Homo sapiens: one gene and its partners. The protein of the gene in region 1 interacts with the protein of each later gene in a pairwise test. Each region holds a gene or a part of one and is shown in the gene's direction. Other genes may lie near its edges.

Region 1 (7,357 bases):
CAATGTTAAGAGAATGAAAACAGAAGCCACAGACTAGCAGAAAACATCTGCGGTACACATATGTGATAAAGAACTTGTCTCTACAATATATGCGAATTCTTAAAGCTCAGCGATAGAAAAAAATGAAAATAGTCAAAGATCTGAACACACACTACACAAAAGAAGATACACACATGGCAAATAAGCATAATAAATGTACTAAGCGTGTTTTGTCATTAGATAATTGTGTACTAAAATGAGATACCACTACACACCTATTAGTATGTCCAAAATCCATAAAAAAGCAAAACAAAGCAAACAAAACCAAGACCAATTGCCAGGGAAGATGTGGAGCAACAGAAACTCTCATTCATAGCTCGTGGAAATGCAACATGGCACAGCCACTTTGGAAGACAATTTGGCGTTTTCTTAAAAAACGGAACATAGACTTAGCGTAAGATTCAGCAGCCATACTCAATCAATTTACCCAATTGATTTGAAAACTTATGTCTACATAAAAATTTGTATATGAATGTATACAATAGCTTATTTCACAATCACCAAAAATAGCAGCATCCAAAATGTATTTCATTTGGTGAATGGATTATATATATATATATATACACACATACACACACACACGCATTAAAATATGGTACACCCAATGATACTACTACTCCTCAATGAAAAGGAATAAGTTACAAGCTGCACAAAGTTTTACATGACTCTTCAGTTCATTATGCTAAACGAGTCTAAAGAAACGAGTCTAGAAAGAAACGAGTCTAAAAAGGCTACATAGTATACGAGTCTATTTATATGACATTCAGGAAAAGGCAAAATTATAAAGATGAAAAACCTATCAGTGGCAGCCAAGGGGGTTATCTGACAAGCACAGGGGATTTATCAGGGCAGTGAAACTAGTATGGTAATACTGTAATGGTGGTTCCGTGCTTGCTTTCATCTGAATATTTGTGTTCCCACAAACTTCATCTGCTGAAATACCAAGGTGATGGTATTAGGTAGAAGGTGGGGTATTTGGAGAATGACTAGTTCATGAGAGCAGAGACCTCATGAATGGGATCAGTGTTTTTATAAAATAGTCCCCACAGAGATCCCTTGCCCCTTCCTCCATGCGAGGACATAGGGAAAAGGCAGGTGTCTAGGAACTAGGGAGCAGGACTCCACCAGACATGAAATCTGCCAGCACCTTGATCTTGGACTTTCCAACCTCCAGAATGTGAGAAATAAAGTTGTGTTGTTTATAAGCCACCTAGTCTACACTATTTTTGTTATGGAAGCCCAAACGGACTAAGACAATGGCAAGAGGCATTTGTCAAAACCCATAGATCTTTACAGCACAAAGAGTGAAGCTTAATGTATGTAACGTCTAAAAGTAACTTAAGAGGTTGGAGAATCACAGAACAGAATGTAAAATGTTACACACACAGAAACCTAGCTGTATTATAGATGTATGAAACCACCACAGTGAAGCAAGTGGGGGGAAAGTTATCATATTTGGGTACTTCATCAAAGAAATATATATTTTATAAAGTATATGTCTTCCAGATAAGTTTGTAAAATAGTTGAACATTTGATAATCATTTATTTAATTTTTTAGATATCAATGCTATTGGGTTTTTGTTTAATAAAAAGTCCTTTTCCTTTAAAATGCATGTTAAATTGTTTAGAGATGAAATGGTCTAATGCCTTAGATTGGCTCCACGTTATTACAGAAGCTCATATGCAGGTAGGCAAGTGTCTAACTGGAACCAGCTTTGCTGTGTATTTAAAGTTGTTCATGCTCGGTATCAAGTATCCTGGGTTCATAATATTAGTTTCTGTTATTCTGTATGTGTGAAGGCTTTCCCTAATAAAACGTTTTTTATCACAAATATGCCATTAAAAGTGAAATCCTAAATGAAACTGACCACTTCATAGAAATAAAATACATCAGTAACCAAACTGATCCAAAAAGAAAAAGAAAACTTTAATTAAACTATACAAACTGAAACTGTACAATATTCAAAGCTCAAGCCACCCTCAAACATTCCAGGTTAGGCAGTTTTGGAGGCCAATTCTACCAAATGATCAGGGAAAACTAACCACCATCTTATATCAACTCTTCCAAAACATACAAAAGATTGACAATTGTTCAGTTCATTCTCCCAGACTAGCCCTCCTGGATTCAAAATCAGATGAGGACCACATCCCTCCCCGATGGAAAAAGAACACACCAAGTAAGCTCCCTTACCTAGCAGTAAATACCTTACCTAAATTAGTAGCATATTAAACAAATAGACAGGCTCTGCCCAAGGAAATAACATATGATTTAACATCAGAAAAAAAAAAACGGTTTCATTGTAATTCCTTACATACAAAATGGAGGAGAAAAAATTTGATCCTGTCAAAGGGTACAGAAAAAGCTTTTTAAAGACATTTAATGAGTTTATGGAAAAAAGAAAATATTTATTTAACCTATATTCAAAGAGCACTTCCATTTCCTAAAATCAACAGCAAACATACTTAAATGTCAAATGTTCGAAGAACTATCATTCCAGTCAGGAACGAGAAGTAGATGTAGCCTATTATCTCTACGTTTGAAATCAGGATTGAGACACAAAAAGCTATAAGTATCAAAATGAGTAAGTGGTATGAATATTGGAAAAACATGTAATGTTTAGTGATAATACCATTATCGATCTTGAAAATTCAAAGGAAAAGGCATGTGGAATATTCAAGTGCATCGGCCTTCAGAATGAGGTGTGCAACAGATTACTACAGCAAAATCAAAATCTTCACCTCACGAAAGCAATAACTAACTACAGCAATTAATAGACAATATGCCATTTGCAATAGCAATAAAATCCAAGAATTACCTGAATAGAAGTCTAATAAAAATGTATAAGCTGCTTATAGAGGCAACTATCGAAGTATACTGACATATTCAGGAAAAAATAGCTTGACATACATAGAGGAGTATAACATATTCATTCATGGGGAACACAACAGTGTAAAAATGTAAACTCAGCTTAAATTATTTACAATTTAGTGCCTTACCTGTAGTCGCCGACATTACAAGCAAATTTGGGCTGCTGTGCTCTGCTTCCCAAATCAACCCTGTAAATTTATAGAATGGAAACAGAAAGTAAAAAACCAGTATTAGCAAGAAAATCTACACAACAAAACAGGGCCAGTCCAGGGTGAGACTGAAGACCTTGTTGAGCTGGTACTTGTGTGTGACACTTGCCGTGTCGGTTAGAGGGGGTTAGCGGCAGGGATGTTGGGGAGGTTTGTAGCCTGCCTAGACGGCAGATAACAGAATGGGTAGAATAAAAGTTTTAAAATTTCCACTTCACTTCATTGCACAATCTGAGGCAGCTCCTGAAAACACGATGCCAAGAGCCCTAGGTAATAGCAGGACACCAGGAAAATTGGGTTTGTTAAGGCAGCATGGCTCCAGAGTTCTGCTAATAACAACCTGAAACCAACATAGTGGGAGAGGAATTACGTTTAAAAAAAAATTCCTTCAACAGAACACAAAGACTGGAATAGAAGTAGATTAGGATAGTAAGAGTGAACGATGCATACTAAGGGTAGGTGTTAGTTCGTAGAAATAAATATATATATCGCTACCTACATATATACTTGGAAGATATGTAAACCGTATTTCTTCAATTCAGTGAATAAATCATTTAGGACCAAAGGTTTGCCAAGTGTAGCTCTGGCTGGAGAGGAGCTCCCGTGGGAAAGTGTCTGTCTTCTTCCAGAGGTCAATACGATCGTGGGAGCTCCCGCCCTGCAGGGAGCTCCTGGCCTGGGACCCGCAGCCATTCTCTACAAGGGGTGCAGCTGTGCAAATGCACAGACGTTACAGAAACAGAGTATCTCCTGCCAATCACTTCATCCAACAGCCAGGAGTGAGGAAGAGGACCCTCTTGAGTGAGGACTGAGGGTCCACCCTCCCCCACGTAGTGGGACCACAGAATCCAGCTCAGTCCCTCTTGTCAGCCCTGGTAAACTTAGGCAATAATGTCACCCCGACCACACCCCTCCCCCAGTGCCACTTCAGGGGGACTCAGAGTCAGAGACTTGGTCTGAGGGGAGCAGACACAATCGGCAGAGGATGGCGGTCCAGGCTCAGCCTGGCATCCAAGTCAGGACCTTGAGGGATGACCAAAGGCCCCTCCCACCCCCAACTCCCCCAACCCCACCAGGATCTACAGCCTCAGGATCCCCGTCCCTATCCCTACCCCTACCCCCAACACCATCTTCATGCTTACCTCCACCTCCATCTGGATCCCCATCCAGGAAGAATCCAGTTCCACCCCTGCTGTGAACCCAGGGAAGTCACGGGGCCGGATGTGACGCCACTGACTTGCGCGTTGGAGGTCAGAGAACAGCGAGATTCTCGCCCTGAGCAACGGCCTGACGTCGGTGGAGGGAAGCAGGCGCAGGCTCCGTGAGGAGGCAAGGTAAGATGCCGAGGGAGGACTGAGGCGGGCCTCACCCCAGACAGAGGGCCCCCAATAATCCAGCGCTGCCTCTGCTGCCGGGCCTGGACCACCCTGCAGGGGAAGACTTCTCAGGCTGAGTCGCCACCACCTCACCCCGCCACCCCCCGCCGCTTTAACCGCAGGGAACTCTGGTGTAAGAGCTTTGTGTGACCAGGGCAGGGCTGGTTAGAAGTGCTCAGGGCCCAGACTCAGCCAGGAATCAAGGTCAGGACCCCAAGAGGGGACTGAGGGTAACCCCCCGCACCCCCACCACCATTCCCATCCCCCAACACCAACCCCACCCCCATCCCCCAACACCAAACCCACCACCATCGCTCAAACATCAACGGGACCCCCAAACCCCGATTCCCATCCCCACCCATCCTGGCAGAATCGGAGCTTTGCCCCTGCAATCAACCCACGGAAGCTCCGGGAATGGCGGCCAAGCACGCGGATCCTGACGTTCACATCTGTGGCTCAGGGAGGGAAGGGGGTCGGTATCGTGAGTACGGCCTTTGGGAAGCAGAGGATGGGCCCAAGCCCCTCCTGGAAGATAATGGAGTCCGGAGGGCTCCCAGCATGCCAGGACAGGGGCCCAAAGTACCCCTGTCTCAAACTGAGCCACCTTTTCATTCGGCCGCGGGAATCCTAGGGATACAGACCCACTTCAGCAGGGAGTTGGAGCCCAGCCCTGCGAGGAGTCAAGGGGAGGAAGAAGAGGGAGGACTGAGGGGACCTTGGAGTCCAGATCAGTGGCAACCTTGGGCTGGGGGATCCTGGGCACAGTGGCCTAATGTGCCCCATGCTCATTGCGACTTCAGGGTGACAGATTTGCGGGCTGTGGTCTGAGGAGTGGCACTTCAGGTCAGCAGAGGGAGGAATCCCAGGATCTGCCGGACCCAAGGTGTGCCCCCTTCATGAGGACTGGGGATACCCCCGGCCCAGAAAGAAGGGATGCCACAGAGTCTGGCTGTCCCTTATTCTTAGCTCTAAGGGAACCCGATCAGAGATAGCTCCAATTGGCAATGTCATTTGTACCACAGGCAAGAGGTTGGGGAACCCTCAGGGAGATAAGGTGTTGGTGTAAAGAGGAGCTGTCTGCTCATTTCAGGGGGTTGGGGGTTGAGGAAGGGCAGTCCCTGGCAGGAGTAAAGATGAGTAACCCACAGGAGGCCATCAGAAGCCTCACCCTAGAACCAAAGGGGTCAGCCCTGGACAACCTACCTGGGAGTGACAGGATGTGGCTCCTCCTCACTTCTGTTTCCAGATCTCAGGGAGTTGAGGACCTTTTCTTCAGAGGGTGACTCAGGTCAACACAGGGGCCCCCATGTAGTCGACAGACACAGTGGTCCTAAGATCTACCAAGCATCCAGGTGAGAAGCCTGAGGTAGGATTGAGGGTACCCCTGGGCCAGAACGCTGACAGAGGGCCCCACAGAAATCTGCCCTGCCCCTGCTATTCCCTCAGAGAGCCTGGGCAAGGCTACCTGCTGAGGTCCCTCCATTATCCTGGGATCTTTGATGTCAGGGAAAGGGAGGCCTTGGTCTGAAGGGGCTGCACTCAGGTCAGTAGAGGGAGGCTCTCAGGCCCTAGCAGGAGTAGTGGTGAGGACCAAGCAGGCTCGTCACCCAGGACACCTGGACTCCAATGAATTTGGACATCTCTCATTGTCCTTTGTGGGAGGATCTGGTTATGTATGGCCAGATGTTGGTCCCCTCATGTCCTTCTGTACCGTATCAGGGATGTGAATTCTTGCCATGAGAGTTTCTTTGGCCAGCAAAAGGGCGGTATTAGGCCCTGCAAGGAGAAAGGTGAGGGCCCTGAGTGAGCACAGAAGGGACCCTCCACCCCAGTAGAGTGGGGACCTCACAGAGTCTGGCCGACCCTCCTGACAATTTTGGGAATCTGTGGCTGTACTTGCAGTCTGCACCCTGAGGCCCATGGATTCCTCTCCCAGGAATCAGGAGTTCCAAGAACAAGGCAGTGAGGCCTTGGTCTGAGGCAGTGTCCTGAGGTCACAGAGCAGAGGGGGTGCAGACAGTGCCAACACTGAAGGTTTGCCTTGAATGCACACCAAGGGCCGCACCGGCCCCAGAACACATGGGACTCCAGAGCGCCTGGCCTCACCCTCCCTACTGTCATTCCTTCAGCCTCAGCATGTGCTGGCCGGCTGTACCCTGAGGCGCCCTCTCACTTGTTCCTTCAGGTTCTGAGGAGACAGGCCCCGGAGCAGCACTAGCTCCTGCCCACACTCCTACCTGCTGCCCTGACCAGAGTCATCATGCCACTTGAGCAGAGGAGTCAGCACTGCAAGCCTGAGGAAGGCCTTGAGGCCCAAGGAGAGGCCCTGGGCTTGGTGGGTGCGCAGGCTCCTGCTACTGAGGAGCAGGAGACTGCCTCCTCCTCCTCTACTCTAGTGGAAGTCACCCTGCGGGAGGTGCCTGCTGCCGAGTCACCAAGTCCTCCCCACAGTCCTCAGGGAGCCTCCACCCTCCCCACTACCATCAACTATACTCTCTGGAGTCAATCCGATGAGGGCTCCAGCAACGAAGAACAGGAAGGGCCAAGCACCTTTCCTGACCTGGAGACGAGCTTCCAAGTAGCACTCAGTAGGAAGATGGCTGAGTTGGTTCATTTTCTGCTCCTCAAGTATCGAGCCAGGGAGCCATTCACAAAGGCAGAAATGCTGGGGAGTGTCATCAGAAATTTCCAGGACTTCTTTCCTGTGATCTTCAGCAAAGCCTCCGAGTACTTGCAGCTGGTCTTTGGCATCGAGGTGGTGGAAGTGGTCCGCATCGGCCACTTGTACATCCTTGTCACCTGCCTGGGCCTCTCCTACGATGGCCTGCTGGGCGACAATCAGATCGTGCCCAAGACAGGCCTCC
Region 2 (7,000 bases), on another chromosome or scaffold:
CATGTTGCCCACCCTGCTTCAGCCTCCCAAAGTGCTGGGATTACAGGCATGAGCCTGTTTGGTTCCTTCGTTCATTCTTTCTTTCTTTCTTTCTGTCTTTCTGTCTTTTTTTTTTTTTTTTTTGGTGATAGAGTCTTGCTTTGTTGCCCAGGCTGGAGTTCAGTGGCACAATCACTGCTTTCTGCTGCCTCAGCCTGCTGAGTAGCTGAGACTACAGTCTCATGCCACCGTGCCCAGCTAATGTTTTGTATTTTTTTAGAGATGTGGTTTTGCCATGTTACCCAGGCTGGTCTGAAACTCTTGGGCTCAAGCGATCCACCCTCCTCAGCCTCCTAAAGTGCTAGGATTACAGATGTGAGCCACCGGTCCCAGCCTTTTTTTGTAATTTATATATTTATTTTTGAGACAGAGTTTTGCTCTTGTTGCCCAGGCTGGAGTGCGATGGCGTGATCTCGGCTCATTGCAACCTCTGCCTCCCGGCTTCAAGCAATTCTGCCTGAGCCTCCGGAGTAGCTGGGATTACAGGCACGAACCACCACACCTGGCTAATTTTGTATGTTTACTAGAGACGGGGTTTCACCATGTTGACCAGGCTGATCACAAACTCCATGTAGTTTAAATTGAAAGAAACCGGATCAGGTTTTACCATCTTACTGTTTTTTCATTCTTCTTTGTTCTGCTGTAATAGAGTGAGGAATTATTAGTTAGATACAATTTAAGGGTTTTTGAGAGCTTTACAAGGATGGAGTTAGTTGGATTTTATGTTAGGATTATAGGAGTGGCACAAAGACAACTTCCTATTGTATGCATGAGGTATATGTATTGTAGGCATTGCTCCTCTACCTTCTATTGTGTTTTACTCCATGTACAGCCAACTAACTGAGCTATAGAGTATCATAACTTGGCCCTTTAATTTTCTTTTTGAAGGTTGTAGCTTCTAGTCCCTAGAGCTTCTGTAATTAGGTGGTCATAAAAATGCACATAGGGCCAAGGTCACAGAGAAATCTTGATTGTGGCCTTCAAGCAGATTGACTTTATTATTGACTTTATTTAATGTCATTTTAGTGAGATTTTTGTTTGCTTGTTAATTCGTTTATGAAGAATGACCAACTGTGTTTACAGGCAGATGAAGGGAAGGGTAGGGAGGTGTGGGACTTGGGAAAGGATAGTTGTACATTGGATGACTAAAAGGCTTTATCTCAGCTGGGCACAGTGGCTCACGCCTGTAATCCCAGCACTTTGGGAGGCCGAGGTAGGTGGATCACCTGAGGTCAGGAGTTCGAGACCAGCCTGGCCAACACGGTGAAACCCCGTCTCTACTAAAAATCCGAAAATTAGCTGGGCATGGTGCTGCACACCTGTAATCCCAGCTACTCAGGAGGCTGAGGCAGGAGAATTGCTTGAACCCAGGAGGCGGAAGTTGCAGTGAGCTGAGATCACGCCACTGCACTCCATCCTGGGCGACAGACTCCATCTCAAAAAAATGAAAAAATAAATAAGTAAATAAATAAAATAAAAAAATAGACTTTATCTCATCATAAAAACTTTTTAATCTAATTTCTCTTTTTTCTAGCTTCAGGCTCCTGGCAAAGGCCTAACTAGCAATAAAAGCAAGGATGACCTGGTGGTAGCTGAAGTAGAAATTAATGATGTGCCTCTCACATGTAGGAACTTGCTGACTCGAGGACAGACTCAAGACGAGGTGAGGAGGCATTGAGACTCTTTGGGGAGGGCGGTGAGTGGATTCAGATAAAGAAGACCTCTAAATAGACAGGCGTCAGATATTTATTAGTGGGTTTGGGTCATAGTCTCTAAAGTCAGGATTGGGTTTAATTTAACTTCAGAGGAAGATAATGGAATGGATATAAATGAATTCTCTGGGTTGGTTTGAGTAAGAAACCATGGAATCAAAATTTCAGATACAGGAGAGAATTCTTTCCTTCTTTACTTGGTTGAATGAATGAATGGGAAGAAAATCTGTCTGCCATTGAAATCAACCAATTGCCACATTTTTTTAATTGAACATTTCCTTTTTTAGATCAGCCGACTTAGTGGGGCTGCAGTATCAACTCGAGGGAGGTTCATGACAACTGAGGAAAAAGCCAAAGTGGGACCAGGGTGCGTATTCTCTTATCTTGTTTATGGAAGGGTTGGGTGTATGACTCACGTTAGCCTCATGTTTTTTATCCTTAGGTAATACGTGTACACAATATTTGATTCAAGGTTTGAGGGGTATGTGTGTGCACACTATAGCAGAATTCTGGATATCAAACAGATACAAGATGTTGGGACCTGTTTTTGGACTTTTATTTCACATTTAATGTTTTTATTGGAGGAAACAAATTATAGGAAAGTGTAAAAGAAGATACTAACCACTAACATTTAATGTATATACTCTTTTTTCTTCTTTCTGTTCCATATGATCTGCAGAAATAATGTATATACTTTTTTTTTTTTTTTTTGAGATGGAGTCTTGCTCTGTCGCCCAGGCTATAGTGCAGTGGCGTGATCTCGGCTCACTTCAAACTCTGCCTCCTGGGTTCATGCCATTCTCCTACCTCAGCCTCCCGAGTAGCTGGGACTACAGGCACCTGCCACCACGCCTGGCTAATTTTTTGTATTTTTAGTAGAGACAGAGCTTCACCGTGTTAGCCAGGATGGTCTTGATCTCCTGACCTTGTGATCCACCCCCCTCGGCCTCCCAAAGTGCTGGGATTACAGGCGTGAGCCACCACGCCCGGCATTGTATATACTTCTTAACTTTTTTCTGTGGAAATAGTTCCCCTCACAAATGGGCTCTTTTTTTTTTTTTTTTTTTTTGTCTTTATGATGGTTATAGTTTGTGATTATTCAGGTAAAGACTTAATCTGTTTCATTTTATTCCTTCCATCATTCCGTGTTTGAGTTTCTCTTCACTGTCAGTTGATAGGTACTTAGGGAATGCAACATTTTTAACATTAGCTTAAACTACACAAAATAAGGTGGCAAAATTTAATTCCTACCCCAAGCCAAGAATTTATTTATTTATTTATTTATTAGAGAAGGAGTTTTTGCTCTTGTTGCCCAGGCTGGAGTGCAATGGCGCCATCTCGGCTCACTGCAACCTCTGCCTCCTGGGTTCAAGCAATTCTCTGGCCTCACCCTCCCGAGTAGCTGGGATTACAAGCATGCGCCACCACACCCGGCTAAATTTTGTATTTTTAGTAGAGATGGGGTTTCACGATGTTGGACAGGCTGGTCTCAAAAGTCCTGACCTCGGGTGGTTCCCCTGCCTCGGCCTCCCAAAGTGCTGGGATTACAGGCATGAGCCACCGTGCCCAGCCCCAAGAATGTATTTAAACTTTCTATATGTGTTGATTGCTGTTTTGAACTTTGTCTTTAAAAAGTTATTTTTACCTGCTACTTTTTATTAACTATATATGGTTATTGATCACTTTATTATAATTTAAGTCCTCTTCACATTTAGAATCTAAATTATCAGTTGATGTAGACCTTAAGAGGTTTCTCTATATGCATGATCAATCTTTCCCCATTAATTTTGTGTGTGTGTGTGTGTGTGTGTGTGTGTGTGTGTGTGTGTGGTTTTTTTTTTTTTTTTTTTTTTTTTTTTGGAGACAGAGTCTTGTTCTGTTGCCCCGGCTGGTGTGCAATGGCATGATCTTGGGTCATTGCAACCTCCACCTCCTGGGTTCAAGTGATTCTTGTGCCTCAGCCTCCTGAGTAGCTGGGACTACAGGCGTGCCACCATGCCCGGCTAATTTTTGTAATTTCAGTAGAGATGGGGTTTTGCCATGTTGGCCAGGCTGGTCTCAAACTCTTGGCCTCATGTCATCCACCCACCTCAGCCTCCCAAAGTGCTGGGATTACAGACATGAGCCACAGCACCCAGCTTGCCCCATTGATTTGGATAGACGAGACCACATTTGTTTATAACCTATTAGACAACCAGCAAAAAGGAATTCTGTTCTTAAATATTGGGTTATCTCAATAGACTGGAAAATAATGGTAGTGAATCCATAAGAACAGATTTGATCTGAACTCTGTGGGCCAGTTGACTTTTAAAATCAAGAAGTTTATTTGTTCCCCAGCTGTTAAAGCATGTTCTGAGACATTAGCTAGCAAAAACCCTTCTAATGTATATAGTCCCTTTTGGTTATTTGGAAACTTGAAACATTACAAATTAGATCTGGTGACCCATTTGACTCCTTTTTTGGTTTTGACCACATTGAGATCATCCTTTTTTGTTTCTCTTTATAGGGATCGTCCATTATATCTTCATGTTCAGGGCCAGACACGGGAATTAGTGGACAGTAAGTAATGTTTTTGGCTCACGTAGCACTTTTTGTGAAGAGCAAAGTACAGGGCTCTGTATAGCAAGTTGGCAAAGTGTCCCTGATGGCTGTTCTAACCCTTGTTCATGAACTATACACGAATTTGTATGGGAGTTTAGAGGGATGGAGAGCCACATATTTGGGTAACGTATAAAGCAGATTTACGGTGAATAATTGAACACTGGCCTGCCTGGGCACTAGTCAGTTCATTCCATTCAGTTTTACTGTCTGTGTTTTTCTAAGGAGCTGTAAACCGGATCAAAGAAATTATCACCAATGGAGTGGTAAAAGCTGCCACAGGAACAAGTCCAACTTTTAATGGTGCAACAGTAACTGTCTATCACCAGCCAGCACCCATCGCTCAGTTGTCTCCAGCTGTTAGCCAGAAGCCTCCCTTCCAGTCAGGGGTATGTTTTGGGGAGGGATCGTTAATAGCATTATCATTTCTATAAAAATGATATGTGCTGGCCAGGCACAGTGGCTCATTCCTGTAATCCCAGCACTTTGGGAGGCCAAGGTGGGTGGATCATTTGAGGTCAGGAATTTGGACCAGCCTGACCAACGTGGTGAAACCCCGTCACGAACATTACCCGGGCATGGTGGCAGGCACCTGTAACCCCAGCTACTTGGGAGGCTGAGGCAGGAGAATTGCTTGAAGCCGGGAGGTGGAGGTTGCAGGGAGCTGAGACCATGCCACTGCACTCCAGCCTGGGCCACAGAGCAAGACTCCATCTCAAAAAAAAAAAAAAAAAAAAAAGTGCCAAGTAATACATACAAAGAAAAAAAAATCGTGAAATTCCAAATTCCAATCCCGAAAGTTACCTGCCATAGGTATTCTGTTTGTGTGTTATCCAGCTCTCCACGGTATAATGAACACCTGATCACACATTTCTTCATATTGATATATTCTAGAAAGGAGATTGATAGAGCAGAAGGTATACATGTTGTACATTTTGAAGTTAGTGGTTTTAATTTGTATTTGTAAACTTGATGACAACTGGAGGACTAAGAAGGCTGAGTCTGATGAAGTAAGACTTTGCTGATACATTCCTCCTAGAAAAAAGGGTTGGAGAGAGCAGCCTTCACTGAAGAGTATCACAGGGCTGACTGTACTACCCAACACTCTACCCCAGTTTTACAGGAGACTGTCTTTGCTATAATTTCTTATTGACTTATTTCAAAGATTGAGGATTTAATTATATATTCTGTTTAATCTGAAGTATTCTGTTCTTCCTACAGATGCATTATGTTCAAGATAAATTATTTGTGGGTCTAGAACATGCTGTACCCACTTTTAATGTCAAGGAGAAGGTGGAAGGTCCAGGCTGCTCCTATTTGCAGCACATTCAGATTGAAACAGGTGCCAAAGTCTTCCTGCGGGGCAAAGGTTCAGGCTGCATTGAGCCAGCATCTGGCCGAGAAGCTTTTGAACCTATGTATATTTACATCAGGTATGGATGGATAGGGCAGGGGACATGTGAATTCTTGTCAACTTGTTGGTACAGTCAGGAGTGATTCAGAAGGAGCAAGAGAAAACTGGGTGTAATTAATAGTAATGAGGGATTTAGATAAATGCTAGGAGTAATTACTTTATAATTAGTTAAAGAAATTGTAGAATTGGGGCACGGTGGCTCATGCCTGTAATCCCAACACTTCTGGAGGCCAAGGCGTAGGACCACTTGAGCCCAGGAGTTTGAGGCCAGCCTGGGCAACATAGCAAAACCCCATCTCTCCAAAAAAATTTTAAAAATTAGGCGGGCACGGTGGCTCACACCTGTAATCCCAGCACTTTGGGAGGCCGAGGCGGGTGGATCACGAGGTCAGGAGATCGAGACCATCCTGGCTAACAAGGTGAAACCCCGTCTCTACTAAAAATAAAACAAAAAAAATTAGCCGGGTGTGGTGGCAGGCGCCTGTAGTCCCAGCTACTCAGGAGGCTGAGGCAGGAGAATGGCGTGAACCCGGGAGGTGGAGCTTGCAGTGAGCTGAGATTGCGCCACTGCACTCCAGCCTGGGTGACAGAGCGAGACTCCATCTCAAAAAAAAAAAAAAATTAGCCAGGTGTTATGGTGTACACCTTAATCCCAGCTGCTCAGTAGGCTGAGGCAGGAGGATGGCTTGAGCCCAGGAGATTAAGGCTGCAGGTAGCTGTGTTTGCACCACTGCACTCCAGACTGGGTGACTGAGTGAGACCCTGTCTTAAAAAAAAAACCAGGTGCGGTGGCTCACACCTGTAATCCCAGCACTTTGGGAGGCCGAGGCAGGCGGATCACTTGAGGTCAGGAGTTCGAGACTACCCTGGCCAACATGGTGAAACCCTGACTCTCCTAAAAGTATAAAAATTAGCCAGGTGTGGTGGCAGGCACCTATAATCCCAGCTATTCAGCAGGCTGAGGTAGGAGAATTGCTTGAACCCTGGAGGCGGAGGTTGCAGTGAGCTGAGACTGCTCCATTGCACTCCAGCCTGGGCAACAGAGCAAGACTCCATCTCAAAAAAAAAAAAAAAAAGAGAAATTATTGAATTAGGAGACGGAATTATCTCTTTAGTATTCAAGTCCTTTGGTTTTGTACAAGTCTGTACAAAAGTGAATCTTGGCCTGTAATCCCAGCACTTTCAGGGCCGAGGCGGATGAATCAGGTCAGGAGATTGAGACCATCCTGGCTAATAC
Region 3 (7,555 bases), on another chromosome or scaffold:
AGCCATGTTCGTCTTGCACACTCTTCCATCCATAGTGCCCAGCACTAACAGACTACTTGACAATATTAAAGAAATCATGAAATCATAACTTCACAAACTCTTGTTGTCATCAGGCCATCTGGGGTGATCTAAATGACTAGGAACAGGACCATAGGGTAGGACATGATATGGAGGGACAGGACCACCCAACCCTGGCCCCCAGCCCAAACTACTCTGGCGTGGAAATGCTTTATTCCTAGGATGAGAGTAGAGGGAAAAGACGGAGGGGTTCCCAGGTGGTGTAAGTGCTTCCTAAGGACTGCCCTCTGGGGTCTTGGGGTATTGCAGGCTTCTCACACCCCACCACCCATGGGGCCAACCGCTCGGCCAGCCACACTGTCCTCAGAGTGTTCCCAGCAAGGTCAGCAGAGACCCAGCAGGTGGAGGAAATAATGGGAGAAAAGAGTTGAAGGTGGGAGTGGGGAATGGGTTCACAATGCATTTGTTCAGGGATCTTTACTCATTCTGTGATGAAGAGAAGGTGACAGTTCACTGGCTCCCTGGGGGTCTAGGAGACTTGGGCTTGGCTGAAGAGGGACAGACACTCAGGGCAGGGCTCCATGCCATCAGCTTATCAGACAGCCACCTTTCTCCTTGAAGGGATTCTTGTCCTCAGGGATGCCTTTGAGAAAAGGATCGTTTCCTGCTTGGGCCTCCACGTACTCCTTGATTTCCTTTCCCGCTTTGGAAATCTGCGAGAACACAAAAAATGTTTTAGGTCCTTGTTACTGTCTCTGGGTCCATGATTTGGTCAGTGCCAGAAAAACAGGCTTCTGGGCAGGGCAGAGACAGGGGCCAAAGAGGAGAAAGACACAGAGGACAGACAGGTGTTCGGGGGTGTGAGTTCCTTGATCTGACCCACAACACTGACCCTGACCTTCATGGGCTGCTTGGCCAGAGCCAGCCCAGACACAGGGCTGGACACGCTGAGCTCTCCAAGGCCCTGAAGCTCTCTCCTGTGCTCAGGGAGGCTGGCACCTTCACAGGGTCAACCCCAGCCTTTCTCTGCATCCTACCCCATCCCAGAGGTACCTCCTGCTGCTTCTGCAGCCCTGGAACAGTCCCACCACCCTTTCTGGTCACTTCCTCCTTCCCGGGGCTCATCAGGAACAGGAAGGGAAGAGCAGGGACGGGGCGAGGAGGCTCACCGGAATTCTTGTGTTTTTCACTTCTTTCTTCAGCTGCTCCACCTCCATCTTCAACAGGTCCTTCTCGCTGAGATCCTGGGCCATCCTGCCCTAGACAGACCTGATCCTGGAAAGGATTCAGCAGCCAGGATCATAAATCTCATCAGCTCTTCCAGCTCCCTCCACACCTCGACTTCTAGCATCTTCCCTGCCATATCCCTCAGTTCAGGCCCCTCATCATTCAACAGATATTCACTCCATCCTTGCATGCCCTGCTTCTTCAAGAGTCTGGGCTCAGGAGGGGAGGAAGCTCCCAGTCTGATGGGGGAGGCACCATTTTTGCCTTTGGATTGTCTGTCTATGGAGGAAATTTGGATTGTCTGTCTATAGAGGCATCTGTCTGTCTGTCTACAGAGGAAACAGAGAAGAAAGAAAAAGGAGTTTCTTTCAGAGAGGAAGATCTGGGAAGCAACGTTATTGTTTCATATAGTGACTCAGAGTTTTCCTCTTTCTCTCCAGGTCCAGCAAGGGAGAGTATACAATAATGGTCAAGAGAAGGGGGTCTTGGCTGGGCGCGGTGGCTCACCCCTATAATCCCAGCACTTTGGGAGGCCAAAGTGGGAGGATCGCTTGAGCCCAGGAGTTCAAGATCAGCCTGGCCAACATGGCGAAACCTCGTCTCTACAAAAGATAGAAAAATTAGCCGGGGTGATGGTGAGTGCCTATAATCCCAGCTACTCGGGAGGCTGAGATATGAGAATTGCTTGAACCTGGGAGGCGAAGGTTGCAGTGAGCTGAGATCATGCCACTGCACTCCAGCCTGGGTAACAGAGAACAACTGTTTCAAAAAATAAAAAAAGATCCCAGGCACTGTGGCTCATGCCTGTAATCCCAGCACTTTGGGAGGCTGAGACAGGCAGATCACCTGAGGTTGAGGGTTCGAGACTAGCCTCGCCAACATGGTGAAACCCCATCTCTACTAAAAATACAAAAATTAGGCAGGCGTGGTGGCGGGCACCTGTAATCCCAGCTACTCAGCGGGCTGAGGCAGGAGAATCACTTGAACCCAGAAGACGGAGGTTGCAGTGAGCCGAGATCACACCACTGCACTCCAGCTTAGGCGACAAGAGTGAGACTCCATCTCAAAAAAAAAAAAAAGAGAGAGAGAGAGACAAGGGGGTCTGGAGCTTACCAGACTCCAACTCTGATCTGCTGCTTCCTTACTGCTTTCTCAGTGTGGCCTTAGGGAAGTCACTCAACCTCTTTGAGTATTAGTTTCCCCAGCTGCAAATGGGTATTAAAAAAACCTACCACATGCAATTATTGTGGGTACTAAGAAAATAATGTCTATAAAATATTATAATATACTACCTGGCACATAATGAACACTTAATACACTTATTATTATCACTAATAATGCTATTGTTATTATTATCACTGCAGGGTTATCAGGAAGGCCTTCCTGGTGCCTAGCCCCAGTGATACTAAGAGTAGATCCCAGCCCAGTGCAACCTCAGCCCCTCTCACCTGCCACAGAAGAGCACACTCTCCAAGTCACTTGTCCTGGACTCAGGTAAGATAGTGTTTGAGCCTCCTAGTTCTTCATCAGCTGAAAATCTTCAGATAAAGCAGATGGCCTGGAAACCAAAATCTCTGATGCCTAAGCTGATCATAGGCTCAAAGTTCTAAGCCCATCACCCGCTTGAGCCTTCAAGCCCTCACTACAGCAGAGCAGAGAGACAGACATTCTCCCCACAAAAACAAACGCGAAAACAGAAGCCACCTTTTCACCACCTTGCCTTGCGTTAGCCTCACACTTTTGGTGACCTCACTAGCTTAGAGCCCGCAGCGCTTCTATTTCTCCACCTCCACCCTGCAGCCCCACTTACCCCGCTTCGCCTGCTTTCTCCTCCTTCCCTTCCCACCTCTGAGCATGCTCTGAGGCTGTCCTTCCTCCTGAGGCAAGTCCTAGACCGGCCCCTAACCTCCTTAACCAAGATGCTTTGTGTTGCCCATTGGATCCCCACAGTTTCACCTTACGAAGTTCTCCTAGCTCACTCTTCATCCACTCATTCAATAAAAATGTCCTTGCTCACCAAGCTGTGCCACTTAGTACTTGGGGCGTGGCCACCTCTAATGCCTCTGTTCAAGCTTCTTTGCTGCCATGCCTCCCTCTGAGCCCTGAATGTGGGTTCCTGAGCACAGAACCCACATCCTGGTTTTTTTCTTGCTGTCCCCCCAGGACCACCCAAGGGCTATGCCATTTAACAGACATTGAGCTCCTGCTCTGGTTGACACCCATCCAATGACAAGGGACCCGCTGGAGGAGCAAAAGTTAAGGGACCAATATGGTCAATGGGAGGTCCTCTTATTCTCCTGTCTCTAGGATGACAGGCTTGGTGGTGGGAGGGGCAGAGAGGAGGCCCGCCGTCCATCCTAACTTCCGTGCTCCAGGACCCAGTCCAACTCTCAGCTGGGAGCTCTAAGAATTTGAAATCAGAACAGGATCCTGGAGGTTGTCTGGTACAACTGTCCTGTTAATGCGTGAACCACAGCCCATACCTCCTAGGCAGGCTCAGTGCTCTGTCCACCGCTGCTTCCTAAAACCGCAAGTTGATCTGAAATTTGAACCTGGTGCTTCTCAAATCCAAGTCCTTCCTGTTGTCTAATCTGAGTCCCTCACATTACGCTTGGTCAATTTCATCTTGTCCTGCCTTCATCTGCACAGAGCGTGTAGGGCAGATCTTCATCACACACAACCCTTCGCAGGCTTGCTAACACCCCTCTGGCAACCTCTCTGGTCATGTCTTCCCGGTGTCCAACCCTGACCCCTCTTGCTGCCGCATCGGCTGTTTTCTATTTTTGCTGTGCTGCTGCCCCACAGTCCTCTGGTATGACGGATCTCCATATCCTATCCACCCTCCACTCCCCTGTCCCTTGGTGACTCATCCCTGAGCTTCCCAAGGAAGCCCCCACCCTCTGCCCTTTCCTCCCGCCTTCCATGAGTGGAAAATCCACCTCCGCCCCCTATAGCAGGCCAGCCCCCTTCCTCCCCAGTCTCCGACCCCATCCCCCAGCCGACCAGTTTCCTCTCCAGGACCAGGGAGCAATCACAGCTGCCCCGACCTTGGCTTCCTCTGCTGGGTGGGATTGGGGGCTGGGCCCCCAAATGGGCCCCTGGCTTCCCCCTTCCTCTGGGCAGGGGACAGAGAGACACAGGCTCGGGGAGCAGGACTGACTTCCTCTTGTCCCGGAATGAGCATGCCTGCCCTTTGCAAGCAGGTTTGGGTCTCACGCAGAGGAAACCAAAAGCAATAAGAGGGAGGGAAGGCAGAGCAACCAATCAAGGGCAGGGTGAGACTCAAAACGAGCGGGCTCCCTGGGGAGCCAGACAGAGGCTGGGGGTGATGGCGGAGCTACAGCAGCTGCAGGAGTTTGAGATCCCCACTGGCCGGGAGGCTCTGAGGGGCAACCACAGTGCCCTGCTGCGGGTCGCTGACTACTGCGAGGACAACTATGTGCAGGTAGGTAGAGCGGGCGGAAGCCTGACACCCCAGCCCCCGGAGGGGGGACCCTGAGCCCTGCCCCAAGTGGGGCCCTGGGACCCATCCTGACAGTGCTTGTCCTGGGCCTTGGCTGAGAAATCCTCCCATTCCAGGCTTCGGCTTCATCCCAGACCCCAATACTTAACCCTGACCCCATACTACCCAAGCCCCCACTGTGCCCCTTCTGTCTCTCAGAGCCTCAGAGATGCCTGGGACAGACAGTGCGATTCCATCCTGTTCTCAGGTGTCACCTCAGGTTCATCCTTCTGAGTTCCCACGGGTCAATCCAGAGACCCAAAGCCTCCGTCCTCACACAGATGCTGGCGATCATTCTATTTCCAGGCCGGCTCTGGGTGAGGCTTCAGAAGAACTTCCCAAACAGCACAGTGAACCTGAGATGGACAAGGGAAAGGGGCTCTTTCCCTGAGTTTGGGAAAGGGAGAGTGGGGATAAGGCAGAGTAGGCTGGGCTAAAGAGAGGGGATCTCATGCAGAGGCAGGGGGATGGCCCACATAACTGCTGGGAGCAGGCTTCTAGCAACAGATAGGGAGGTGGCATTGTAGAACAGGTTTTAAATTGTGTGGTTGTCCTGGGGCTGAGAACATAGATTCCTGGATTCAGGGAGGAGAGGCAAGGCAACTGAGCCATGATGGAAATCACTTCTGTTATTTCATTAATCTGTACAACTACCTTGTGAGACATGTATTATAATTCCTATTTTACAGATGTGGAAACAGTAGCTCAGGGAGGTGAGGTGACTTGTCTAAGGCCACACAGCTCCAAACAGCAGAGCCAGGCATTCCTTTTTTTTCGCTCTTGTTGTCCAGGCTGGAGTGCAATGGCTCGATCTTGGCTCACTACAACCTCCGCCTTCCGGGTTCAAGAAATTCTCCTGCCTCAGCCTCCTGAGTAGCTGGAATTACAGGCATGCACCACCATGCCCGACTAATTTTATATTTTTAGTAGAGACAGGGTTTCGCCATGTTGGTAAGGCTGGTCTCGAACTCCTGACACCTCAGGTGATCCACCCGCCTTGGCCTCCCAAAGTTCTGGGATTACAGGAGTGAGCCACTGTGCCCAGCCAGCCTTTTTTTTTTTTTGACGGGGTCTCCTCTGTCACCCAGGCTGGAGTGCTGTGGCATGATCATAGCTCACGTAGCTTCACTGAAGCCTTGAACTCCTAGGTTCAAGCAATCCTCCCACCTCAGCCTTCTGAGTAGCTGGGGCTACAGGTGCATGCCACCATGCCTGGCTAATTTTTTAAATTTTTTTGTAAAGACAGGGTCTCCATATGTAGCCCAGGCTGGTCTTGAACTCCTGGCCTCAAGTGATCTGCCCACCTTGGCCTCCCAAAGTGCTGGGATTACAGGCATAAGCCACCACATTTGGGCTTCCCTGAATCCTGATGCCAAGCTCTTTCCTCTCCATCTTTCTGCCTCCCTACACGCTATGTGACTTTACGACAGTTTATTAGCACTCTCTGTCCCCGGTTTCCTCTGCTCCCTGAAGAGCTGCAGACTAACCTTGTTACCCCTTGGGCAAAACTTTATTTTTCTAACCTGTACTAACCAAACTATGAGAACAGGCACAGGGACCTTGTAGCATAGTAAGAATGTTGAAAAAAGAAGTAAATGAGTAACAAGTGCTCATGGGAAATGGCAGATTAAAGACAGTCAGTAATGACAGCAGTTAAAATGCTCTGGACCCTTCTTTTGGGCCAGGCATGTTACCAGCATGGCCTCCCTTCATCCTCATCTGAAGTCCGGTGAGGCGAGTCCCATGCCCACTTCACAGTGAGGAAGCTGAGGTTTGGAAAGGTTAAGTCACTTTCCCAGAAGTCTCCTAGCTAGTGTCAGAGCCTGAATTCAAACGCAGAAATCTGATTCCAGAGCCCACTCCCTATGCCACTAACTGAAAATGCTACTCTGGGTATCATTTCGGTCTGTGTAGATGTTGAGTGACCACCTGCAGATGAGACAGAATGAGGCTTGCAAACCAGCTCATTCTCCTAGCATGGAAAGGCATGTTTCCTCTATGGACAAGGATCCAAGCAGTCCTTTCCATTCCTTCCATAACTTCTGCACACCTCAAAGAGCTTCCACAGGGCTCTCATTTGCACACACAGTGTGCACACACAATTTGGGGTCGCAAAGACCTAAGTCAAATTTCCAGTTCTGCCACCTACCAACTACAGGAACTGTGGCAAGTTTCTCCTCTGATTCTCATGCCTGCCTTCAGTGGTGGCTCCATGGATTCAATATAAAAATGTATCAAAGCATTCAGCCTAGTGCCAGCCCCTTCAGAAGAGCAGGATAAATGGCAGCTCTTACAATGACCATCACTACCATTCATTGGAAGGATGGATAATAAGAATCAGTTCTAGGGAGGAGAAGCTGTCCTTGCAAAAATATGCAGGGCATGAGAAGCCCTGACCCAAGTTGGAATCCTTGGACTCCTGCTTCCTTCGTGCAGAGTACTAACTACTAGAACACACAACTTGTTACCTTTCCTGGCCTTTCTGAGGATCTTTATCTAGGCAAATGCCTAGGAAGGTTCTGGATCTCAGAACTTCTGTTACCTAAGGCCTGATTCCCCTACCCTCCAACCCCACCTGCAGCCCCTCTCTCCCCACACCACCCAGATGCTAGGAAACCCATGGGGAATTAGGGAAGGCAGACCAGGGTCACCTGCAGAGTTCTCAGCCAGGGTTGACTGAGTTTACAGACACGGTAATTTGCATGATGAACAAGCACTCAGCCGCAGAGATGGATCTCAGACACCTGTCCCTGCGGACCTAACTTTGGGCTAAGAGCAAAGCCAGGGGTCGGTAGGTGTTCAGGCTGC
Region 4 (7,348 bases), on another chromosome or scaffold:
ATCCAGGAGGGTGACTGCTGAGTCATAAAGCATACTGCTAATTTTTTTCACTAAGCACTGCCAGGTTGATCTGCAGAATATATTTACCAGTTTAAATTTCCATCAGCAGTGCATCTTTCCCCAGATCTTTGCCAATATTTGGGATTATCTTTCTGATTTCTGCCATGCTGGTGGGTGAAGCAGTGGTGTGTTGAAAACAGTTCATGAGAGCTGATAAAGCACATTTCTTCCCAACTTCTTGTTCAGTGACCTCAAGCTACACTGGTAGCTGGAAACTGGCAGTGCTCAGAGTATTTGCACCATGGAAATTGGCAAACACTGTACGTTAGGACTTTTCCTTCCCTGGGGAGCGGGTTTTAAAACATAGACCAGCATATTGGTGGCTATGGGGTCACACTCTTTATATTCCCACTCTGATTACAAGTGGGGTTGAGCATCTCTTTAATGCTTGCTTGCCATTCTGGCTTTTCCTTCTGTGAATTGTCTATTCTTATACTTTTCTCATTTTTATATTGGCCTTTAAAATATTTTATATTGACTTCCTTTTGATTTGTGAAAAGTTCCTCATGCATTTCAGATATTAATCCCTAGTTGCTTTTGAACATAGCACATGTTTTCTTCCAATTTGTCAGCCATCTGTTAATTTTTTCTATGGTATTCTTAACTGAACAGAACCCTTAATTGTGATGCAGTCAAGTCATACAATTTTTTTTTGCTTCAAGGATTGTGCTTTTGCAAACCTGTTTTATGAAGTAAATTCCTAACCCACATTATAGAGATAGTCTCCTGCATTTTCTTTTGTATCATATGTAGGTCTGCCATTTATCTGGAGTTCACCTTTGTATATGGCAGAACATGGGGCTCTCAACTTTATTTTTCCTTGATAAATTAAAGCCAGTTTCCCGAATGCCGTCTTCTAAATAATTTATATTTTTCTCATTGATCTGTGGTACCACCTTTGTGTAAATGGAGGTAGCATTTATACGTGGGTCTGCTCCTGAGTTCTTCATTCTGTTTCCTATTTGCTCTATGTGTTCCTATACCAGTACCATAATATTTTTATTACTATGTGGCAATGACATAATATCTGGCATGGCAGGTCTGCTCTGGTTTTTATAATTGACTTAACTGTTTAAAATTTATTTCTCCTTATATATTTTGTAAGTTTGTTGAGTTCCCTAAAAATTTAGTTTCTGCTGGAATTTTGGTTGCCATAACATTTACTTTGGAGACTAAATGGATACTTTTACAATGTAAAGTCATCCTATCCATGCTGTATCTCTCCACTTATTCAATATTTTATGTCCTTAAATAGAGTTTTAAAATTTTCTCCTTAAAGTTTTTGCAAGTTGTTGGGTTAATTCCTGGATATTATGCTTTAGAGTTTGTTAAACTTTATTGTTATTGTGAATGGTTTCTTATTGTCTGTTACATTTCCCAGTTGCTTACTGCTGATGTAGACAAAACTATTGATTTTTAGAAACTGATCTTGTACTTGGCAACCTTGCTGAGCTAACATTACTTCTAATACTTTGTTGATTCTGTTGGGCTTTTTATGCTGATGATCACACCTGTAAACATCACAGACAGGAAGATATTAGGGGCTCTGCCCAGTGCTCTGATCTTTTGCATTTAAGCACTTCTGCTAGTTGAACTCCAATCTGGTGCCCCAATTCTGACAGTTGGGTGTCTCTCATGGTCCTAAGGGCCTAGGCCCCCTATACACTCACAAATTAGAAACTGATGATATTCCATCCCATATCCAGTCCATGTAAAAGCAGTGACCTTGTCTTCTTTTGCTATTTCCTCTAACCCTTTTATCATGGTCGGGGTCCTGAGAGCTGCTGACAGATCTTCCTGCTGCCGAGTGTCTGAATTCCTGAATGCTGCTCTATGCAGCCATTCTGGGTCTTTAATGCCCCCAAAGACAGCCTGTGTAGGTTAGCAAAGTAGTGAATCAACATAGGCCTTCAGATCAGACAGACTTAGGTTTGAATCTTATTTCTGCCCCTGGCTACATGGAGCAAGTCACGCAGCCTCCCAGAGTCTGCTTCTTCATTTGTAAAGTGAAGACAAGATTTCCATAGGTCAAGTGCCTTACAGTGGTCAGTGAGTAATGCCCTTTCTCCACACTGTGATGTTGACCAGTAAGTTGATCACCTCCTGACGCTGTGGATTATTGCTATACTTTTCAGGAACTTTGTGTCTCCAGATAGAATTGAATCTCAGCAGCTACAGTTGGTCCACATCCCCATGTGCCTTCCCACCCCAATGAATAGTTCAAGTTCCAAGTTCTGGCCACATATCATTGTCCAGTCTCACTCTGGTTAACTGGGCAATACCTGGTTCTAAAGCTTGTATGTCACGAGGTATTCTAGGAAGCATGACTCCAACGAGCACTTGCATTCTTGATGATGGTATAAAGAAGTAACGTCAGATTTTTGAACAAAGGCAACTAAGTGAGTGGGAGACTCTGGTGGCTTGGTATCCTGGGAATTTGCCTATGTATCATACAGTGTTTGGGTGTAGCAGATAAAGCCAGTGGCCTGGCTGGTTCTAACAGAGATCTTTATTATAACTAAGAACAACTGAGCTAGCCATGCCTTGTCACCTACTAATAGTGGTATTTCAGATGGATAATTTAAATCAGCAATAAAAGTGAACTGTATACGTTTGGAAACTTCACCAATAGCTACTCTGTTACACACAGATCTTTATGACTTTCTGTGGTTCAATGACAATTGGCCTCATTTATAGGTGCTTGAAGCCAACCAAGGGCAGATTGCCTTCCTTCTTTTAACCAGCTAAAGAGATGGGTGGGTCAGACAAGAAGAGGGTATGATGAAAGCAGGGAAAGGGAGGTGGACTCTTCAGAGGGAGGAGGAAGTATCCGTGTCACATTATCTCTGAGAGCACTCGCAGATGCTGAGCCTGCAGAGACAGAGAAACTGGCAGCTGACCAGGGTCAGGGATGGTCATGTATTCAAATATTGTGGGTTTTAGTCAAGTGTGCTCCACCCGATTCAACAATGTGATGTGACTGCTCCTAGCAACTATTTTGATATGGTGAATGTTGTTAAGCATAGGACCTAAGAAGAGGTGGCAGTCTCTTTCCTCTCCGCACTTGGCAGGCCACCCACTCATTCCTGATAATCACATTTAAGAGAGCTCTGGACAAGCTGGAATGCATCCAAGAGAATCCCTCAACATGCTGGTGAGTGGGATTGTGACCAGGTCATATCAGGAGTAGCCTAAGGGACAGGTAATGTGTGTCTTGGATGAATTGGAGTCAGACTTAAGAGTCCCCAGGGCAGAAACAAAATCCAGTGAGGGAGAGATGCAGGGAGCTGGATTTTAGCTCCTAAGGTAGAAAATTTCCAAAAGGCTGATCAAAGATTAAATGGCTGCCTTAAAAGGTAATGAGTTCCTTGTTAGTGGAGGTGTTCAACCACTGCTTGGTGGGAAGACACTGTAAGGAGGATTCAGGCAAGTGGGAAGGGGGCTTTTTCCAGTCCCTGAAATCAATGATTCTAACAGGAAAAGATGCTCCGGGGTGCGGTGAGCGCTTACCTCTGCTCTTGCAGAGACACTGACAGACGTTCATTCAACATCTGTTCCTGCCAGGCACTGTGCGCGCTGAACACAGAAGTACAGCCTCTATGAAGCAGCCGCTGTAGGCCTCAGAGACAGCTGATAGATGTAACACTGTTGTCTCCATGTTTCAAACTTCGGTCATGGTCTTACTAGGTCTCCTCATTAAGGGGACTCACTATGTGTCCAGTAACGCTTTCTTGTTACCAGATGACAGAGAGTCAGGCTGTCAGAGTTCACGACTTTAGGTGCACAGTTTCACCCTGTCTGGTCCTTGGGAGACGGAGAAGGGGTCAGGAGAAAACGTGGGTGAAGAGGCAGCAAAGCCGCAGGAGATATGAACTAATTGCTCAACGTGGGTGTAGCACGGATTAGGCCTTTTACAGCAAGCGCTGCCAGCAGGGAACTGGTGGATGTACTCTTGACCACGCTCGGCTGGACTCTGGGGAGCCCAAGACGGGTAAGACTAGGTCCCCGGCCCCAGCAGCTGGTGGGGGCGCCGCAGGTTAGAGACGTGAGGCCGCGAGGCTGAGGGCTGTGAAGGCGGTGGGCACGCACGGCGTGCCGGGGCCGCCTGGCTTCGCGGCGGGGGAGGTAACACTGCGACACCCCGCAGACGCTGTCAGCCGGGGTCGCGGCCCCGCGTGCGCCCGATCATCTGACTGCTGGGGAGTGCGGGGGCGCGGGAGCCAGGCGAGCCAGCGCAGGCGCGCGCTGCCTCCTCCGTCCCCACCGAGTCCCCAGCGCGTGCGCGGGGCCGTGGCCGAGGCCTGCGCGCCGCCCGGCCGCCTGCACTGCGCGCGCGCCCACCCCGCGTGGGAGGCAGCGGGAGGGGCCCGGAGAGGTGTGGAGCGGCGCGGCGGGAGGCTCCGTGGGCGGCCACGGGAGACAGCGCCGGCGGGAGCGCGCCTCTCGGCCTTTCCTCCGCGCCCCCGCGTCCCCAGCCGGCCGCTCCGAGAGGACCCGGAGGAGGCAGGTGGGCCGGGGGCGCGCGGGGCCCCCCCGGGCCGCGGGCTGGCCGGCGGCGGGGTTGGGGCCGGGGTGGGCGGCCCTGGGGGCCCGCGGGGAGGTCAGTGGCCCCGGGAGGGTCGCGCAGAGGCGCTGGGGGCTGTGGAAGCCCCGCGGCCGCCTCCCGTGGGCACCGGTGTCGCTGGCCGCGGGGAGGCCTTCTCGGGGCGGAGCGGCCCACCCGGCGGGGATGGGGACTCCTCGTGGCGGCCGCTGACGGACGGCCCAACTTTAGGTTGAGGGGCGCGGGGTGTGCGGGACCCGGCGGCGGAGCTGGGCTCTGGGCCACGACCGCCAGCCGCGGCTGCCCCGAGAGTCCCCGCACGCGCAGTGGCTTTCCAACGCGGCCTCTTCCCATTTCTCACTTGACTCCCCTTGCGCATTAAATTGTCGAGAAACCTTTGGCCAGTGGGTCTTCAAAGCTAAACCAAATGGCTGTCCTTGCAGTCCTTGGCTACCTGAGATCCCTTAATTCTGAACCATCCGCACCTGGGAGGGGAAGTTGAAAGGAGCGCTGGAGCTGAGCCCGCATCCTTAAGGATCCCATTCACTGCTTATGATGGTAGAGCTTTGAATTAGATGTCAGGCTGTTCACGTCATCCAGACTCTGGTTTTCAGCTCTGTGCTGAGACAGTGTTTTGATACGTATCAGAGGATGATGTTCCTATGGGACAATAACTTGCTGTATGTTCTGAGATACTAGACTGCGTTCATATTGTAGCACCATCATCGTATAAAACGGGCGCCTTTGAAAGGTTTCAGTAAACACCTTCCTCAGGAACATCCGCCAGCACTTAAATTGTACTTCACTTTCACTTTGACGTTTGTTGTTTGTGAATCTTGTGCACAATTTAAAGTGAGTCGTCTAAACAGCACAGGATCACGTGGTGCGGGGCATTGAGCAACTGGGGAGGAAAGCAGAGACTTGAACCTGCTGGAGTCTAGTTGGTCTGCGTTTTTATGTTGGAGAACCATCCTGGTTCCAGCTTATTTTGCTTTCGTAAATATGATGCATTTTTTAAATGCTTTCATTTGATACGGTCTATCTGGACTGTAAGATTGAGTCTAGCCATGCATGGAATGTGTTTACTTCTGTTTTGTAGAAGATTTAGCCCATGGTATTCTATTTGTAGGATTCATTTCAGACATTTTGTGTTTACCACATACAGTCCCACCAGCAAGGGCTTTTAAAAAAGTGACCTATGTTGTCTCTCATAGCTTATGACAACTCCAATTTTGACACGTGTTTGAAACTAGTGATCTTTAGATTATATAAAATCAACTTCACTCTTTCTCCCTGTTCAAACCTCAAACTCTGGTTACTTTTAGGCTTACTGCTCCCTTGTTAATTATTTATAATGAACTATGGAGCTATAGGCTTGCTTTAGTGTGTTAACCTTTATTTGTGTCTTGTTTCAGGCATTTGTATATTGTTTTCTCATCTGGAGAGTGAGCTGCACTGTTTTCCTTCAGTGCTGTTTAGAAGAGCTTTCGGAGACCAGAAACATGTTCTTTTTGCATTACCCAATATGGTAGCACTAGCCACATATAGCTTTTGACCACTTGAATGGGGCTAGAGCAGTGGAAGCACTGAAATTTTAATATTTTTTTTCTTTTCCTTTTCTCTCTCTCTTTTTTTTGTTTTTGTTTTTTTTTTTTGAGACGGAGTCTCGCTCTGCTCTGTCACCCAGGCTGCAGTGCAGTGGCCTGATCTCTCCTCACTGCAATCTCTGCCTCCCAGGTTCAAGCGATTGTTCTGCCTGAGCCTCTCGAGCAGCTGGGATTACAGGCGCCTGCTACCACACCCTGTTAATTTTTGCTGTGGGGTTTCACCATATTGGCCAGGGTGGTCTCGAACTCCTGACCTGAAGTGATCTGCCCATCTCGGCCTCCCGAAGTGTTGGGATTACAGGCATGAGCCACTGCACCTGGCCAATTTTTAAATTAATTTAAATAGTCACATGTGGCTAGTAGTTAGCTGGTCAGATGCCACAGCTTTAACTTATTAGTCTCCAGGAAGCCTTCGTTGACCCTCTTGAATCTGTGCTTTCATAGGACTCAGCTGTCCTTGGTCATAGCACTTACTACTTTCAACTTTCTGGTAGGAATCAACACTAGGCTGTAATTTATATGAGGGCAAGGACAGATCTGGTTTCTTTACCTTTGCATAGCTTAGAACTTAGTAAGAAAAACTGAATAAATATTTGTTAAATGCATAAATAGCTTTTTCAGGGCAGGTATTTCAATTTTTAATTCTCTCTAAGGCCAACTAAGTGTTCAGTACTGTAAATACCTGTTTAGTAGATTGTACAGATGTTATGTAGGTAGCAAATAAAAGGATCATTGGAGTTATGCTTTAAATACTTACGTGGTGAGATTGGAATCTCAGGAGAATGATGACTCATAACAAAGTATTACAGGAAATTGAATGAAAGGGCCTCATGATTCCAGCTAATGTAGACACAGCTTTGGTCTCCTATTAGTTGAATAACTCAAGGACACTCTTGAACCATATCTCAAATCTGAAGTCTCCTGGCTTCAGTAAGGCCCTTTTATGGGGTCCAGACAGTCCTGAACCAGCCTGAAGATGCTAGTGGACATCCCCATTTATTACTGCTCTGTGTTAAAGCATGGACCAAGGAGTCTTGGAAAAAAAATCACAAGGTATTTGAGCCACGTTATGTAAGATGCTTTTGCTAACAGCTAACTTGGAGTGATGAGTAGGGTGAAATTCCTATAGAAATCAGAG

The links.
Region 2: the proteins of MAGEA12 (region 1) and KHDC4 interact in binary tests that used the Homo sapiens proteins (3 or more experiments, as listed by UniProt).
Region 3: the proteins of MAGEA12 (region 1) and ABI3 interact in binary tests that used the Homo sapiens proteins (3 or more experiments, as listed by UniProt).
Region 4: the proteins of MAGEA12 (region 1) and CLIP4 interact in binary tests that used the Homo sapiens proteins (3 or more experiments, as listed by UniProt).

The regions. Positions count from the first base shown.
Region 1 is NC_000023.11:152,729,409-152,736,765, forward strand, and holds the start of MAGEA12 (melanoma-associated antigen 12), read left to right. Parts: upstream 1-4,348; 5' UTR 4,349-4,451; intron 4,452-4,453; exon of another isoform or gene 4,454-4,626; intron 4,627-5,739; 5' UTR 5,740-5,845; intron 5,846-6,678; 5' UTR 6,679-6,753; coding exon 6,754-7,357. Other genes in the region: CSAG1 (chondrosarcoma-associated gene 1 protein), read right to left, coding at 3,037-3,052. UniProt on the Homo sapiens protein: Not known, though may play a role tumor transformation or progression. In vitro promotes cell viability in melanoma cell lines.
Region 2 is NC_000001.11:155,924,414-155,931,413, reverse strand, and holds part of KHDC4 (KH homology domain-containing protein 4), read left to right. Parts: intron 1-1,573; coding exon 1,574-1,702; intron 1,703-2,038; coding exon 2,039-2,118; intron 2,119-4,257; coding exon 4,258-4,310; intron 4,311-4,574; coding exon 4,575-4,738; intron 4,739-5,327; exon of another isoform or gene 5,328-5,456; intron 5,457-5,570; coding exon 5,571-5,782; intron 5,783-7,000.
Region 3 is NC_000017.11:49,206,152-49,213,706, forward strand, and holds the start of ABI3 (ABI gene family member 3), read left to right. Parts: upstream 1-4,555; 5' UTR 4,556-4,573; coding exon 4,574-4,690; intron 4,691-7,555. Other genes in the region: GNGT2 (guanine nucleotide-binding protein G(I)/G(S)/G(O) subunit gamma-T2), read right to left, coding at 606-731, 1,188-1,271. UniProt on the Homo sapiens protein: May inhibit tumor metastasis. In vitro, reduces cell motility.
Region 4 is NC_000002.12:29,111,099-29,118,446, forward strand, and holds the start of CLIP4 (CAP-Gly domain-containing linker protein 4), read left to right. Parts: upstream 1-4,316; 5' UTR 4,317-4,567; intron 4,568-7,057; exon of another isoform or gene 7,058-7,263; intron 7,264-7,348.